2 linked regions of the Homo sapiens genome follow. The protein of the gene in region 1 interacts with the protein of each later gene in a biochemical or structural test. Each region holds a gene or a part of one and is shown on either strand. Other genes may lie near its edges.

Region 1 (3,655 bases):
TGCCTCAGGTGATCCACCTGCCTCAGCCTCCCAAAGTGCTGGGATTACAGGCGTGAGTGAGCCACACGCCCAGTGCCTCAACACCTTTTCAATAAGTTTTGATCCAGTGGAATGCAGATGCAGCTTTTTAATGAGGTAGGTTTATGGAAAATGACTAAAACTTGAGCATTTTAGACAATTCTATGCAGAAAAAAAAGTGGAACAAGATTTTATAATTAGTTTATAGGGTTCAAATGAATTTCATCAATCATTTATCTAGACAGCACACCAAATAAAATCAAAAGAAGTTAAGAGTTTTCATCCATGTCACACGGCTTGAAAGCTGGGCATAGAACGTAACTTTCATGACTTTCTAAACTAGGTGCTTGTTTCATTTTAATATGCAAATCTTCCAGAATGTTTGAATTATATCTAGATAGGCAGAGGGATAAACAAAATGTTTTCATGTATTATTTTGAATAAGAAAATTCAGGAAGCCTAAAAACAGACATTCAACTACATGACCATTTGCTTAAATTAATTTTAAGCAGGCAAAAGAAAAGTAATCTGAGCCTTTTAATCAGGTCAAAGAATTTGACTGTAAATTTTAAATATATACCACCTAAATTGAAAAGCAGGACATGTGGGATTAACAAATTGAATAGCAGCATTTTTTTTAACATATACTAGGTATCAAAGTAAGCATTTTACATTAAGTGTTCATTTTAATTTTCACAATAACTTTATTAAGGTCCTTATTAAAAATGAGAAAGCTTGGCCAGGCGCAGTAGCTCACACTGGTAATCCCAACACTCTGGGAGGCCAAGGCAGGTGAATCACCTGAGGTCAGGAGTTAGAGACCAGCCTGGCCAACACGGTAAAACCCCGTTTCTACTAAAAATACAAAAATTGGCCTGGCATGGTGATGGGTGCCTGTAATCTCAGCTACATGGGAAGCTGAGGCAGAAGACTCACTTGAACCCAGGAGGTGGAGGGTGCTGTGAGCCAAGATCACGCCATTGCACTCCAGCCTAGGTGACAAGAGCGAGACTCCATCTCAAAAAAAAAAAAAAAAAAAAAAAGGGAAAGCTGAGACCTGAAGAACATAAATAACTTATCCTAGATTACTTAAAGGATAATCTATACCACATACCCAGATCTGTGATTTCAAAATCCATATAACTAGGTTTGAAGCTAAGTTTCTTATTAAGATTACCCTCAACTTACTATTTTCGCTTTTCAAATAAAACTTTTTGGCTGGGCACTCTGGCTCATGCCTGTAATCCCAGCAATTTGGGAGGATGAGGTGGGCAAATCACTTGAGGTCAGGAGTTCAAGAACAGCCTGGCCAACATGGCAAAACCTCATCTTTACTAAATACAAAATTAGCCAGGCGTGGTTGCGCACGTTTGTAATCCCAGCTACTTGGGAGGCTGAGGCAGGAGGACTGCTGGAACCCAGAAGGCAGAGGTTGCCGTGAGCCAAGGCTACACCACTGCACTCCAGCCTTGGTGACACAGTGAGACTGTCTTTAAAATATATATATATATTTGTAGAAAGAAATTCTCAACTAGTGAGATCAGTTTACAGAACAGTAAAGTTACAACCTGCATTCAAAGGAAGCTTTTCTACTTGAGTTTATAAATTGGCTACCACCCTGATGTTAAAATTAGCTAAAATTTGTTCATAAGTTGATCTAGTCATTGATAATAAATGTGTCAACAATATTATATTTCACCAATACATATTTAACCAAACAGCTTTTACAAATCTTCAATCAAAATAATAGAAATAAATTGGTATTATACACCTACAAAATTAAAAATGTTAAAGAGATACCATATTTTCAGTGTCACAAGATTTGCCTTGCACAGCTAGAGTCACCACCTCCCTTCCACTTTGATCATTTAATTTTAATACTGTGCATCTGGAGGATGAAACAGAACTTTGCAAATCATCACTTAACTTCGAGTACTTAGAACAGTTAATTCAATGGCCACATGCCAGTTTCTTTACTGATTACATACATATATGATCCAAGATTACTTTAAAAAATAATACTATGCTGAAACCATTCCCACTGATTGTTGAGAATTTGTTTAAAGCTAGCTCATCTGTTATAACAAAAGGCTGTTAACCTACCTGTCACTGCTGGTACTACTGCTGCTGCTGATTGAATCACTACTGGAGGATCTACTTCTAGAGCCGCTGCCGCTAGGGGACCTTGTGGGTCTAGATGCTTGGCTAGCCAGTCTCTGAGGAGACTGATTTCTAGACTGGGATGAATGTGGTGACCGACTCCTGCTGTGCTGGTAATTCCGCTCTGGCCTTCTGCCTCGTACCTCCCGGGTAATATCATCCCTGTAGATATCCCTGTGTACCACACTGGGCAGTGTAAACTGCTCGCGAGCCCTAGGTTCATATCGGGGGTCATGAGCATCAAAGCGATTTGGACTTCGACTCCGAGAAGCGTAATAGAGCCCATGTTGTAAAGTCCGCTCTCGAGGATCTCTATAGTAATCCTGATCGTAATGTCTTGTCCGATCAAATCCTCCCGTCCCCCGTTCATGGTGTCCATAGGCACTATGTTCATAAGCACGCTCCCTGTTATCTGAAGCCCTGCATTTAGGAGGGGGAAAAATATTTAATCAGAAAGGAGCAAGCAAAACTAAAAGCAAGTCATGCAAACATTCACTTCAGCATTGTCTTTGTCTTTGCAACTGGTCATTTTCTAAACAGCATTAACCTACTTAATAAGCAAACGCTAACAAGCTTAACATTTTACTTGACTCCAAAAATTATTTTCACAGCTGAGCAATCATTGTTTTCATTGTATATTGGGCTTTCATGACTAGTGTTCTGCAGCTCACTTGCTTACTTTATTAGAGATTTTCTGACTTGCATACATAAATATACAATCTCCTTTTCATGTTAACGGAACAAGAGACTATTTTAATAATATGAAAGTTTTTACACTTTCATCTGATTAAAGTATATACCAAATTTTATTTACTCACAAATTTCTTTTAGGCCACATTTCCATGCTATGTTTTAACTTAGACATGAAAGCCCTGCTGCAGCGCATGTCTCAACAATAGGAAGGACTTTCAAGAAGTCCAGAAAAAATTTTCTAAGTTTAACTTTTTTTCATTAAGTTTTGACTGCTTGGATAGTTATAAAAAATTACTGGACTACATAAACTAGACTACATAGACTGCACAGCGGTACCCAATTACATTTAATAATAAAAATAGAATCTCAAAAAAAAACCACTTCAAGTATCAAAATATTGGGTTACCACATGCTACTCTATGTGAATTTAAATAAAAATAAAAATTATTTACTCCTGTGCTATCAAATTCCAAATGACTTTAAAAATGCCTATTCCATGATTCAATTTCTTAATGTATAAACTCAATGGTTGTAGGAAATATGTTCTTTTGGCTTTTAGCTATACTCAAATTGCCTGTGATGAAATTAGGTAACATTAGGAACTATAAGATATTCTAAGGTCGCTATTAGCAAAATAGCTTAACTTAAACAATCATTTAGTAGGATGTGAATACCTGTCAACCTAAAAAGTACAAAACACGTTGCATGTACGATTACACACATGCAATTATGTGTTAATATTAAAAACTAGTTATAATCCTATAAAGAAATCGTAAGTTCTCTA
Region 2 (3,655 bases), on another chromosome or scaffold:
CTCCCAGTTTCAGGCAATTCTCCTGCCTCAACCTCCTGAGTAGCTGGGGCCACAGGCACGCACTACCACACCTGGCAAATTTTTGTATTTTTAGTAAAGATGGGGTTTCACCATGGTGGCCAGGCTGATCTCAAACTCCTGGCCTCAAGTGATCTGCCCACCTCAGCCTCCCAAAGAGCTAGGATTACAGGCAAGAGCCATCTCCCCCAGCCAAAACAATACATTAGTCTATAGTGGTAAATTAATACTGACCATGAATGATAAAAACCCCTCAATATCTGAATCCTTTCTGTTTAATATAATTGAGATAATTTCTTCCTCTAAGAGAAATAAGAAAATTTGCCTGAAAATTTACCTCATATAGCCAAATAACTGAAATCAGAACTTTTCTCACCATTATCATCTTTCCTTATTCTTTCCTTCCCCTCCCAAATTCTAAAAATGATTGATTATAGGTAAATAAGGAAATGGTAAATGAGGATATCTGGGCTTGTGTTTCATCCTGATTTCAAAGTACATAAAGATAAATGCAAAGTTCATTTATGTTGCAATCTGTCATTTCAGGTATTTGACCTGTCCAAAGACGACTTGATACCTCTATAATGTAACAGAAAAGGTCAGAAAATATTAAGCAAGTAGAAGTGTGGAGCATATTAAGCAAGATGAACATCTCGGGAAGCAGCTGTGGAAGCCCTAACTCTGCAGATACATCTAGTGACTTTAAGGACCTTTGGACAAAACTAAAAGAATGTCATGATAGAGAAGTACAAGGTAAAATCTTTTCTTAAATACTTACAGCAGTATTTTGTTGAGACTGTAGTGGCTTTGTATACCTTTGTATGACAGTCCTGTTTATTATTTCTATTTCAGCTTTTAGGTTCCGGGGGTACATGTGCAGATTTGGTACATGGATAGATTGCATGTTGCTGGGGTTTGGTGTGCAAATGATTTCATCACCCAGGTAGTGAGCATGGTACCCCATAGGTAGTTTTTCAATCCCCACCCTCTTCCCACCCCCCTGACCCTCCACCCTCATGTAGGTCCCAGTACCTGTTGTTCCCCTCTTTGTGTCCATGTGTACTAAATGTGTAGCTCCCACTTATAAATGAGAACATGCAGTATTTCTGTTGTCTGCTCAGGGTAATGGCTTCATCTGCATCCATGTTGCTGCAAAGAAAATAATTTTGTTCTTTTTTATGGCTTCATTGTATTCCATGATGTATATATACTTTTTTTTAATTCAGTCCACTGTTGAATTTTGTACATTTAATGGCCATCTTTAAATTCAAAGATATCTTTTTTTTTTTTTTATTTTTTTTGAGACAGGGTCTCACTGTGTCACCAGGCTGGGGTGTAGTGGTGTGATCACAGCTCACTGCAGCTTCAACCTCCCATTCTCAAGTGAGCCTCCCTCCTGTAGTTGGGACCATAGGCACACGCTGCCATGCCTGGCTAATTTTTTATTTTTTGTAGAGTCAGGGTCTCACTATGTTGCCCAGGCTGGTCTTGAACTCCTGGCCTCAAGTGATCCTTCTGTCTCTGCCTCCCAAAGTGGTGGGATTACAGACGTGAGCCACTGCGCCTGGCCCAAAGATCTCATTATTTATTTATTTATTTATATATTCATGTATTTATTTATTTACTAATTAATTTTCAGAGAGGTTCTCACTCCGTTGCCCAGGCTGGAGTGCAGTGGTATGGTCACAGCTCACTGCAGCTTTAACCTCCCAGGCTCAGGTGTTCCTCCCACCTTAGCCTCCTGGGTACCTGGGACTACAGGTGTGCACCACCACGCCCAGCTAATTTTATGTATTTTTTGTAGAGACAGAGTTTTGCCTTTTTGCCCAGGCTGGTCTTGAACTTCTGGGCTCAAGCAGTCCACTGGCCTCAGCCTCCCAAAGTGCTAGGATTACAGGTGTCCGCTGCTGTGCCCAGCTGATCTTTTTTTCTTTTTCTTTTTGAGACAGGGTCTTGCTTTGTCACCCATGCTGGAGTGCAGTGGTGCAAACATGGCTCACTATAGTGTCAAACTCTCGGGCCCAAGTGATTGTCCCACCTCATCCTCCCAAGTAGTTGGGACTACAGGCGCACGCACCATGCCCAGCTAGTTTGTTTTTGTTTTTGTTTTTTTTAAACTTATCCTTCACCTTAGAACACCTAGCTAGTTTTTGTATTTTTTGTGGAGTCAGGGTTTCGCTATGTTGCCCAGGCTGGTCTCAAACTCCTGAGTTCAGGTGATCTCCCGCCTTGGCCTCCCAAACAGCTAGGATTACAGGCGTGAGCTGCGCCCAGCCAGATCTCATTTTTAGAGGACATTTACAATTGTAGTTTTTGTGATTCATTTTTATGGTCAAATTGGTGCTTTTTAACCACAGAACATAGTTTGTATACAACTTGCTGTTATTTACTTGTGGTAATATGTATGAGATAGTGGAAAACGTATACAATTTGTTGACTGAAGACCTGCATTTGAATTCTGATTTCATTTACCCACTTGCTCTGTGATCTTAGCCTAATTACCTAACCTCTAAATTTAATTTTCTTCTATAAAATTCTTTGCAGGATATAGACATAAAAATACTACATAAAGTCATTTGACAAACCCGTAGCACTGAAATACAAAAGTGAATGGCCACTTACCTTCAGACAGCCTGCAGTCTTAGTAGAGTCGTGTAAACAGATAATTACAGTACAGTGAAATAACAGTTAAAAGGTTTTTATGACGTGCAAGGAGTTTTAGAGGATTAAGCAATTGTGGTTGAGATGAGTAAATATTATTTGTGTTAAAAGATACACCATATGAAGCTAAGCTCAAGGTTTTAATATTAAATTTTAATATACTTTAATTCTGTAACTTTCCCTATGTCCCTATGTATGAGAAATGCTTCATATTACATTTGTTTCTTGATTACCTATTATAAGTTTAATATTGCAGTGCTTTATAGCTGTATCATTACACTGGAGTACTATTAAAACATAATCAACCTGAATCTAAAGTGTAGTATGTGAGTCTGTATTAGAACTTTCTTATGGTAGGCTGGGCACGGTGGCTCACGCCTGTAATCCCAGTGCTTTGGGAGGCCAAGGTGGGCGGATCACCTGAGGTCAGGAGTTCGAGACCAGCCTGACCAACATAGAGAAACCCTGTCTCTACTAAAAATACAAAATTAGCCGGGTGTGGTGGTGCGCACCTGTAATCCCCGCTACTCAGGAAGGCTGAGGCAGGAGAATCGCTTGAACCCAGGAGAATCGTTTGAACCCAGGAGGCGGAGGTTGCAGTGAGCTGAGATCACGCTATTGCACTCCACCCTGGGCAACAAGAGCGAAACTCCGTCTCAAAAAAAAAAAGAACTTTCCCATGGTAAGTTTAGTTTCTTGCAAAACTTCTGGTGACACCCTTATTAATTAATGAGTTTTGAAATATGAACAACCCCAAAAGTATTCTTTCAAGCCCCAGTGTTCATGGAGACACAAAGAAATGTTCAAGAAATGTTTTTTGGGCACTTACTATGTGCCAGACCTTGTGAATAAGAATAAATCCTATATAGTGCTAGCTTTAAGGGAATTTCTAGTCTAGAATTTTAATGCAGTATACTATGTTATTATCTGAAAACATGAAGGAAGAACTGAGGGTGTGTGTGGTTGCATGGGGAAG

The links. Proteins that work in one complex are often made in the same cells at the same time.
Region 2: the proteins of SPEN (region 1) and RBBP8 form a complex in vitro, tested with the Homo sapiens proteins (one study listed by BioGRID).

Annotation. Positions count from the first base shown.
Region 1 is NC_000001.11:15,875,145-15,878,799, reverse strand, and holds part of SPEN (msx2-interacting protein), read right to left. Parts: intron 2,599-3,655; coding exon 2,122-2,598; intron 1-2,121. UniProt on the Homo sapiens protein: May serve as a nuclear matrix platform that organizes and integrates transcriptional responses. In osteoblasts, supports transcription activation: synergizes with RUNX2 to enhance FGFR2-mediated activation of the osteocalcin FGF-responsive element (OCFRE).
Region 2 is NC_000018.10:22,936,190-22,939,844, forward strand, and holds part of RBBP8 (DNA endonuclease RBBP8), read left to right. Parts: intron 1-564; 5' UTR 565-662; coding exon 663-771; intron 772-3,655. UniProt on the Homo sapiens protein: Endonuclease that cooperates with the MRE11-RAD50-NBN (MRN) complex in DNA-end resection, the first step of double-strand break (DSB) repair through the homologous recombination (HR) pathway.